Homo sapiens: one gene and its partner. The protein of the gene in region 2 purifies or fractionates together with the protein of the main gene of each other region. This does not show direct contact. Each region holds a gene or a part of one and is shown on either strand. Other genes may lie near its edges.

What was found.
Region 1: the proteins of VGLL4 (region 2) and GMPS purify together in Homo sapiens (co-immunoprecipitation; one large-scale study listed by IntAct). This does not show direct contact.

Annotation. Positions count from the first base shown.
Region 1 is NC_000003.12:155,928,975-155,933,822, forward strand, and holds part of GMPS (GMP synthase [glutamine-hydrolyzing]), read left to right. Parts: intron 1-2,790; coding exon 2,791-2,906; intron 2,907-4,848. UniProt on the Homo sapiens protein: Catalyzes the conversion of xanthine monophosphate (XMP) to GMP in the presence of glutamine and ATP through an adenyl-XMP intermediate.
Region 2 is NC_000003.12:11,562,942-11,567,789, forward strand, and holds part of VGLL4 (transcription cofactor vestigial-like protein 4), read right to left. Parts: intron 2,901-4,848; exon of another isoform or gene 2,079-2,900; coding exon 1,856-2,078; exon of another isoform or gene 1,345-1,855; coding exon of another isoform or gene 1,318-1,344; intron 1-1,317. UniProt on the Homo sapiens protein: May act as a specific coactivator for the mammalian TEFs.

The sequences.
Region 1 (4,848 bases), about 140 Mb from region 2:
TGAATAATGCCGCAATAAACATATGTGTGCATGTGTCTTTATAGCAGCATGATTTATAGTCGTTTGGGTATATACCCAGTAATGGGATGGCTGGGTCAAATGGTATTTCTAGCTCTAGATCCCTGAGGAATCGCCACACTGATTTCCACAATGGTTGAACTAGTTTACAGTCCCACCAACAGTGTAAAAGTGTTCCTATTTCTCCACATCCTCTCCAGCACCTGTTGTTTCCTGACTTTTTAATGATTGCCATTCTAACTGGTGTGAGATGGTATCTCATAGTGGTTTTGATTTGCATTTCTCTGATGGCCAGTGATGATGAGCATTTTTTCATGTGTTTTTTGGCTGCATAAATGTCTTCTTTTGAGAAGTATTGATGGGACATATCTCAAAATAATAAGAGCTATCTATGACAAACCCACAGCCAATATCATATTGAATGGGCAAAAACTGGAAGCATTCCCTTTGAAAACTGGCACAAGACAGGGATGCCCTCTCTCACCACTCCTATTCAACATAGTGTTGGAAGTTCTGGCCAGGGCAATTAGGCAGGAGAAGGAAATAAAGGGTATTCAATTAGGAAAAGAGGAAGTCAAGTTGTCCCTGTTTGCAGACAACATGATTGTATATCTAGAAAACCCCACTGTCTCAGCCCAAAATCTCCTTAAGCTGATAAGCAACTTCAGCAAAGTCTCAGGATACAAAATCAATGTACAAAAATCACAAGCATTCTTATACACCAACAACAGACAAACAGAGAGCCAAATCATGAGTGAACTCCCATTCACAATTGCTTCAAAGAGAATAAAATACCTAGGAATCCAACTTACAAGGGATGTGAAGGACCTCTTCAAGGAGAACTACAAACCACTGCTCAAGGAAATAAAAGAGGATACAAACAAATGGAAGAACATTCCATGCTCATGGGTAGGAAGAATCAATATCGTGAAAATGGCCATACTGCCCAAGGTAATTTACAGATTCAGTGCCATCCCCATCAAGCTACCAATGACTTTCTTCACAGAATTGGAAAAAACTAAAGTTCATATGGAACCAAAAAAGAGCCCGCATCGCCAAGTCAATCCTAAGCCAAAAGAACAAAGCTGGAGGCATCACACTACCTGACTTCAAACTATACTACAACGCTACAGTAACCAAAACAGCATGGTACTGGTACCAAAACAGAGATATAGATCAATGGAACAGAACAGAGCCCTCAGAAATAACGCCACATACCTACAACTATCTGATCTTTGACAAACCTGAGAAAAACAAGCAATGGGGAAAGGATTCCCTATTTAATAAACGGTGCTGGGAAAACTGGCTAGCCATATGTAGAAAGCTGAAACTGGATCCCTTCCTTACACCTTATACAAAAATCAATTCAAGATGGATTAAAGATTTAAACGTTAGACCTAAAACCATAAAAACCCTAGAAGAAAACCTAGGCATTACCATTCAGGACATAGGCATGGGCAAGGACTTCATGTCCAAAACACCAAAAGCAATGGCAACAAAAGCCAAAATTGACAAATGGGATCTAATTAAACTAAAGAGCTTCTGCACAGCAAAAGAAACTACCATCAGAGTGAACAGGCAACCTACAAAATGGAAGAAAATTTTCGCAACCTACTTATCTGACAAAGGGCTAATATCCAGAATCTACAGTGAACTCAAACAAATTTACAAGAACAAAACAAACAACCCCATAAAATTAACTTTTAAGCTGATACTTAAACACGTTGATAAGTAAATGTTTATGAATTGTTTTTGTCTCCCACTTAAGAATTCTTTATCCACTCAAAAAACACAGGCAGATCTTGTCTGCCAAATTATAATTTTTCATAATTTTATTTTATTTTTTTGAGATGGGGTCTTACTCTGTTGCCCAGGCTAGAGTACAGTGGCATGATCACTGCTCACGATAGCCTCGACCTCGTTGGGCTCAGGTGATCCTCCTATCTCAGCTTCCTGAGTAGCAGGGACTACAGGTGCATGCCACCACACTGCCCAGCTAATTTTTGTATATTTTGTAGAGACAGGGTGTTGCCATGTTGTCCAGGCTGGTCTCAAACTTCTGGGCTCAACTGACCCACCCACCTCGGCCTCCCAAAGTGCTAGGATTATAGGTGTGAGCTTCTGTACCTGGCCTTGTCTGCCAAATTAAATATGCTGGTTATCCACAGTTGTGCAGGTAATGGGAATGTTGAATACTTTTTTTTTTTTTGAGACAGAGTTTCACTCTGTCACCCAGGCTGGAGTGCAGTGATACGATCTCTCAGCTCACTGCAACCTCCACCTCCCAGGATCAAGCAGTTCTCCTGCCTCAGCCTCCCGAGTAGCTGGGACTACAGGTTCATGCCACCATGCCTGGCTAATTTTTGTATTTTTAGTAGAGATGGGGTTTCATCATGTTGGCCAGGCTGGTCTTGAACTCATGACCTCAGGTGATCTGCCCACCTCGGCCTCCCAAAGTGCTGGGATTACAGGCATGAACCACTGTGCCCAGCCTAAATTCTTGATATTACCATGATACTTTATGTATGTCTTAGCTGATTCAGGTAGGATTTAATATGGGATTTTAATTTGGAATTTATTTATACCATTAAAGAAGCATTTAGTATATACTTTCATTCAAAATTTCCAAAAATCCATTAATAATGTCACCATGCATAAGATATTTTTCAATGCATCTTTTCTTTTTTTTTTAAAAAAAAAAAAAAGCTTTGTCAAGTTAAACTGGTGTATCTTTTGACTATTAAAAATTATTGATTATCTTTTTATTTTCAGGGTGACTGTCGTTCCTACAGTTACGTGTGTGGAATCTCCAGTAAAGATGAACCTGACTGGGAATCACTTATTTTTCTGGCTAGGCTTATACCTCGCATGTGTCACAACGTTAACAGGTGTGTTTCACAGGAGCTAGGGTGGGGGCTTGTGTAATGGAAGGATGTATTTCTTAAGGGCTTTCAATTAATGGAAGACCAAAAGGCTCAAATGTAGATATAGGTAGGTCATGTAGATAAGAGTAAATGGCTGTGTTTGTAATTCAAATATGCACATAGGTTGCAGTTAAGTAGATATTTAATATTATCTTGTGTTTTGACTCTTCATCACAATGTAGTCATCTGTTAAAAATTATTTAAAGGAGAAAGATTTTTATTTTAGTGTAAAATATTAAAGGCAGCTGTAAAACATCTTCTAAATTAGTGGTTTATATTAGCTGTTGGTTTTATGGTAACATGTTTTATTCCAGAAGGATTGAAAAAAGTATGTCCAGGTTACAGAATTACAAATAAAGTAACACACACACACACACACACACACACACACACACACACCCCTACAAAACAAACAACCCCCACTCCAAACAAAAATGGAGACTTGGTTAATTTAGTAGTAACCCCAAGGAAAAAAATCAAAGAAAAGAAATAGGCATGTGCCAGATAGCATTAAAATAGTTACATTTAAATATATAATTTACATTTAGATTAATTTCCCTTTAATTTGCATATTAACTTCTTACATTGGATATATCAACAGCTGATTTATAATCTATTTCTAATCCTCAATTTCATCGTACCATATATAGTTCAAAAATTCACTTATTTTGTACTAGATTGCTAATTAAATGTTCTTACTTCACAGTTATTCTCTCTGTTCAGTTTTCTTCATGGGTGTTAGGCAGTTAACAACCAAAAAGAATTACTTGAGGTTTCATTTTACTCAAATTGCTGCAGAAATCAGAAGCTTACCTTTTAATGTTAAGCTAGCAGAGTCTGTATAGTTCGAGATAAGGAGTTACAGGGAAGCCATGTTTTTACCGATGGGAACATGCTCATTCAAAGGCTTACTCAAATGAACTGAAAACCGTCAAATACAGAAGCATCTTTAAAATGCTGAAAAATAGAATTATTACTATCTTCAATAATGGGGGCCAGGCATGGTGGCTCACGCCTGTAATCCCACCACTTTGAGAGGCCAAGGCGAGTGGATCACTTGAGCCCAGGAGTTTGAGACCAGCCTGGGCAACATGGTGAAACTCCATCTCTACAAAAAATACAAAAATTAGCCAGGCATGGTGGTGTGTGCCTGTAGTCCCAGCTACTCGGGAGGCTGAGGCAGAAGAATGGTGTGAACCCGGGAGACAGAGCTTGCAGTGAGCTGAGATTGCACCACTGCACTCAAGCCTGGGCGACAGAGCGAGACTTCATCTCAAAAAAAGGAAAAAGAAAAAAAAAAGAATCTTGGTGAACTTTAGATTTATTTGCTGGGGTCTTTTTGATGAATTGGAGTTTAAAAATATTCTTCCCTGTTTGCCGGTTTTTTTCCTAATTTGGATAAGGGAATCTTTGTACAGGGAGGGACTGTTCCAGTTTTACTGTCATATATAGTGTGGGTAAATACCTGTCCCAGTACACTCTAGTGATTACTTTTGTTTGTAAGAAATGAGAAGGTGAAAAGAGCAGGTTCATGGCATTCTCTTAACTTTCTCCTGTAAAGATCTTTTATGAACTTTAGGAACTGTATTGTTTAGAAAAATTATAACTTACTGTCTATACGTGGGACAAAAACCTTGCTTCTGTTGTAGTATGTTTGGAAGGAGACAATAAAGTAGTTGGTGATACCGGTGGTTTTGTGCTAATATGGTTTTCTATTGTGTATTTTACCTAAGTACATATTAAGAAAAGAAGAAAAAACATTAAACTTTACCATGATAGTTTCCGGGGAGATTTATTTTCTTTGCTAAAAACAGGACTAACGAAAAGTGAATAGGGAGAACTAGCTAAGTGGCACTCATATCTCTACCCTGATTCCCTCTTGTTTTCTGGGTGAAGATTGTGAAAC
Region 2 (4,848 bases):
GTGTGCCGTGGGCAGCCAGGCCCATTCCAGGCTGGGGAGAGGGAGACAGGGTAAAGAGAGTCAGGCCACTCTGTTCAGCAGTTCAGTTTTTGCAAAGCAACTGTGACCGAAAACCAACTGCAAGATTCTCAAGAGCCCTGAAGAGTCAAGGAAATAAATCATCCAAGAACACACTAAGCCCGCCAAGGGCCCACCCTGACCATGTGGGCAGAGATAGCTTGTAAGGCTCACAGTTATGTCCCCCAGGTCATCAAGGGCCAGAGGCTGGATGTGGGTGCTCCGAGATTACAGCTGAATCCTCCCCTCCATACCCGTGTCCTTCAGGGACTCCCCAACAGCAGTGGCAATGGCCAGAGAGCCAGGTTCTGCCTGCACGGTTCAGGCCATGGCTCATGGCAGCATTACAATGCCTGTTGAGCTTCCCAAAGCAGAAAGGTCCACTGCCCACCCCGGGGAGCAGTGAGCGGGTCCCTGTGGGTCGCACTGCGCACACGCCTCTGTTCCAGCCCCTGCTGCTGCCCAACAGCACAATCCTCTCTTCTCATGTCCATTTCCCCAATTAGACTGGGAGCTCCCTGTGGCCGTGACAGTGTCCACACACACGTCTCTGGCTGCCCACAGCTCTGCTCTGCAGAGGGCTGGGTAAATGGTGAGCGCTCGTAAAACGTTGAAATGAACAGCAGTGATAACTTGGCCTCGGGTTCCATCAGACACATCAGCGATCTCTCCTCCAGACTAAAACTGAGCGTGCTGAGAACAAAAACTGCATCTTGCTTGACTGGCTTCTGGTACCCCCTGGCACACAGCAGGGGTCTGTGCCATTTTGTTAAATGGATGAATCAAACAAACAGGATTACCATGTCAGGCTCTGAGGCAAGATGGGCAACTGTTCTCAGCTTCACCAGGATTCCCAAGCACCAGAACCACCTCTCCCAACTCCCAGGGCCTACCCCACCCACAGTTTCAACAGACCCCATCAGACACGGACACCAGGCAGTGCCACTTGGAGGGAAGCCCCGGTGAGGCCACAGGGACACAGAGGCTCTTGCAGCTGAATGCACAGAGCCCGGAGGCACCCCCTCGGGGCACGGCACCATCCTCTCTGTCAGTCTTAGCAAATGCTGACTACTGACTAAGGACCTATTAGGTCGCAGTCCCTGGAGATTCGGAGAGCTCAAGCAGTAATTTTGAGCCTCCTCAATGCTGCTGCCTTCTCCCATATATTTCCCCAGGAACCCCATTTTTAAAAAGATTTGTTTCTACCAAGCAAGCTGTGTTTATTAAGCAATCATTTAATTTCCTATTTTCCTTTCATAGAAAAAAATCCCTATGTACCAATCATAGGCTTCTGACCAGCATGGGCTCACAACCCTGTGACCATCAACTGTGCAGGACCCCAGCCCAAGGCAAAGCAACCTGACATTTCCCTTCATCCGCGTGACCGTCTAAAGGAGAAACGTAGGACCCCCCCACCCGAGGATGACTACATTCATCCTAAGAGAATCAGGCCTGCCACAGAAGACTGCTGGAGGAAACACCTCAGTACACCACCCCTGTACTGGGAGAGGAAAGAGATGAAGCCCCAGTGACATTCACCTTGCCCAAGGCCGTGAGTGCTAAGAGGCAAGGCCCGGGCAGGTCTGGGCAGGAAGTAAAAGCAGAAGAGGACTCCTGTTCTGCTGTCCCTTGTCCCAAGTGCACAACAGAGGCGAAGGGTGGCATCCCTCACCACCTCCCTCCCTCACCACCTCCCTCCCTCACCACCGCCCTCGGAGTCCTCTGCTCGGGGCTCTCCATCCAGCCCAGTCCCCCAGCCCCTGGACTCCCCACGCCACCCTCCCAGACAGAGGCCCACCTGCTGCCGCTCCCCCGGGGTCAGTGTGGGCGAGAGGCCGGCTGGCCTGCTGGCGTCCAGGCTGTTCTTGGTCAGTGCGAGGGGCTGCTCCAGGCCAAGGCTGGGGAGGGAGGTGTACAGGTGGCTGCCGTGCAGGCTCATGGTGGGGGCCACAGCGCGCTCGATGGGGCTGCGGCTCCGCTCCCGGGGGTCTCTGCGGCAGTCTCCATTGGCAGTCTTGTTCCTGAAAAAGAGGAATGGGCATTCAGGGGGCGTTTTCTCAAAGGCAAAGGGGACAGTGACTGTGCGCCAGGCACTCCGTGTTGCTTATTTAATTTTTTACCCTGAAGCTCAGGTCGTGTGGCTGGGCAGCACGATGAGGAGCCGGTTGCCAGCCCGGGTCAGCCGGACACCAAAGCCTCTGGGTGCCGGAGAAGCTGCTGCCAGCGGAGTCCAAAGTCAGCTCCATAGAAGATGGAGCCCCCGACTCAGTGGCGTCCTCTGCCTGACTCTGTGTTCACTTCTATAATAATCTCCACTCCCTGGGAGCCTGGGGAGCTGGAGGCCAAGCTGGTTCGATAAGGACCTGCCATTTGGACAGGACGGGGACGCTGACAACGATCCAGAGTCACTGGCTGCGTCCTACATGCAGGGCCCTATTCAAAGCCTCCACAGCACTGCTCAGCCCATCTTCCTCACAGTACTGCTCAGCCCGTCTTCCTAACAGCACTAAGCAGGCAATGCTGCCACCATCCCCTTTCCAGACCAGAACCCCAAGACTCAAGAGTGGTGGAATAATCAGCTCAGACTCCCAGCTGACATGTGGTGGCACGTGCTCTGGGGTTCCCGGGGTGCTGTAGGGAGCCGGCGCGCAGCTCTCTCGTCCAGGACACACGAGCAGGAGTGACCTGCGTCCAGAAGGTCCATCACTAGCCCTGGCCATGTGCTGAGCACCCAGGCGATGCCACGTGGAATCCAGGTGAGACAGTCAGCACCACCTCCATCTGATGTGTTAGTCTGAAGGCAGCGTTACGTGTTGCATCTATTAGACACCAACCCCACACAGGTAAGCCATGGCCAGCCCTGGTCCACCCTCCCTGCTTTATTCCAGGGGTCCCACAGTTCCATCTGCCTTGGGTCTTGCCCCTTCAATCCACCATATTATCCGCTGACAGAGTAACCTTTTTCCGTAACTCATGAGCTGGTCATTTAAAGAAAAAGGTGGTGAATTATGATTTGAGTGAATTTTAAGAAATACAAATTATTTTCAGAGTCTACAAGTAGTCACCTGTCTTAACTAGCAGAAAAGCCTAGGCCTGCCCTGGTGAAGCAGCAGCCACAGCCCCCGTCCCGGACTGGCTGAATATGTTACACACACAATGAATGTTACACACACAATGTTACGCATGCACACAGAATGTTACACACACACTGAATGTTACACACACGCACACCACACACACACACGCATGTGATAGGCGTACCTTTCTAAAACTGTAGATTAACTTCAGTTGTAAGAAACAACACACGGCCATCCCATGCACCCTTTACCTTGACTCCCGCGATGGTGACATCTTGTAAAACTACAGTACAATATCACAACCAGGATATCGACAATGAGACAACTACCAACCTTATTCAGATTTCGTGTTTTGCTTGTATCCATTCCAGAGCAATCTCTTTATAAGGCAAATCCAACCACATCCAGCCCTTAGTGAATGTTTTTAGCAGCTCAGCACGGGCCTTGGTAGCCTCTGGGCCTGACCACCTTCCCGTCCTCATCTCTGGCTTCACGCCTCCAAATGTTGTGTTCCGTAGTTCCAACCATCTACTTGCCATTCCTCAAATAAGATGCGGCCACTCTCTGCCTCTGTGGCTGTGTACACGCGGTGCCGCTCTAGCCTCCCTCCTCCCCGTCCTGCGCTGCCAACCACAGCTGCAGTGTAGAATCCCAAGGCGCCCCGTGCAAACCTTTAATACAGAATCCATCCCCCACCGTCAATGATCTCTTCGTCTACGCACCCGCCCCTCCTCACACACGGCAGCCTCTGAGGGCGTCGAGTCCCTCCTGTCTCATTACGCTTGCTACCAGGGGTGCACAGAGACTTAACGGGTGAATGAAGAGAAGCAGCATATGGGTGACCGTGTAAGAAAGGCAGGTATCGTGGAGTGGAACTGTGGGTGGGCAGAATCATGGAGAGCTGGAGGGCTGAGGAGTCAACTGGAGGCGCATTCAAGCCTTTAGATGGACCCTGCGGCCCAGTCGGTGAGCTGCTAAGGGCTGAGCAGGAGAAGCACCAGAGGGGGCCTGAGTGCAGCCTCGGCTGTGATGTTGTGATGTCATTCTGCGCCATCTCCAGCAGGGGCACGCGCTCAGCTTAGTGACCCGAGGCGTTCCGAGCCTCGGCGTCCCCATGTAACCATGTGGTCACAGTAAGATCCACCCAGAGGACTCTAAATGGGGGACAAACAGCACACAAACAAAAACAATCAGAGCGGCGCAGTGCAGCCCTCAGTGAGCGCCAAGAGAACCCTGTCAGCCCTAAACCGAGTATATTGATTATAGGGTGATTAGCTGTACAGGACCCAGTATTCGTTTATGGGGTTTTTTTCTTCCCCTTTATTTTCTGGCTGATGATACAGAATATCTTAAAAGCAATTAAGGATTAAATGTTCAGCCCATTAAGACAATCATGGAAGAGAATGTTCTGGCAGAGTCTAGATAGTAGGTTCCATCCACGCCACACACATCCTGGCGATTTTCAAAACGTTAAAATACTAAAAACCTTAATACTGAAACCAGCCTGTCCATAATGTCATCTGTCTGTGGCGATTCAGAAGACAGCACAGGTTTCTGCAATGAATGCCTCAAGGGTTATGATCCCAGACACCGATGTCACCAGAAGACCTTCCGCGGAACGGACGTCAGGCCAAGCAGTCCTGAGATCTGCTGGCTTCTACCTAAACGGGACTTGGTTCCTGAATACTCAGTTCATCAGTGTCACCACACATCC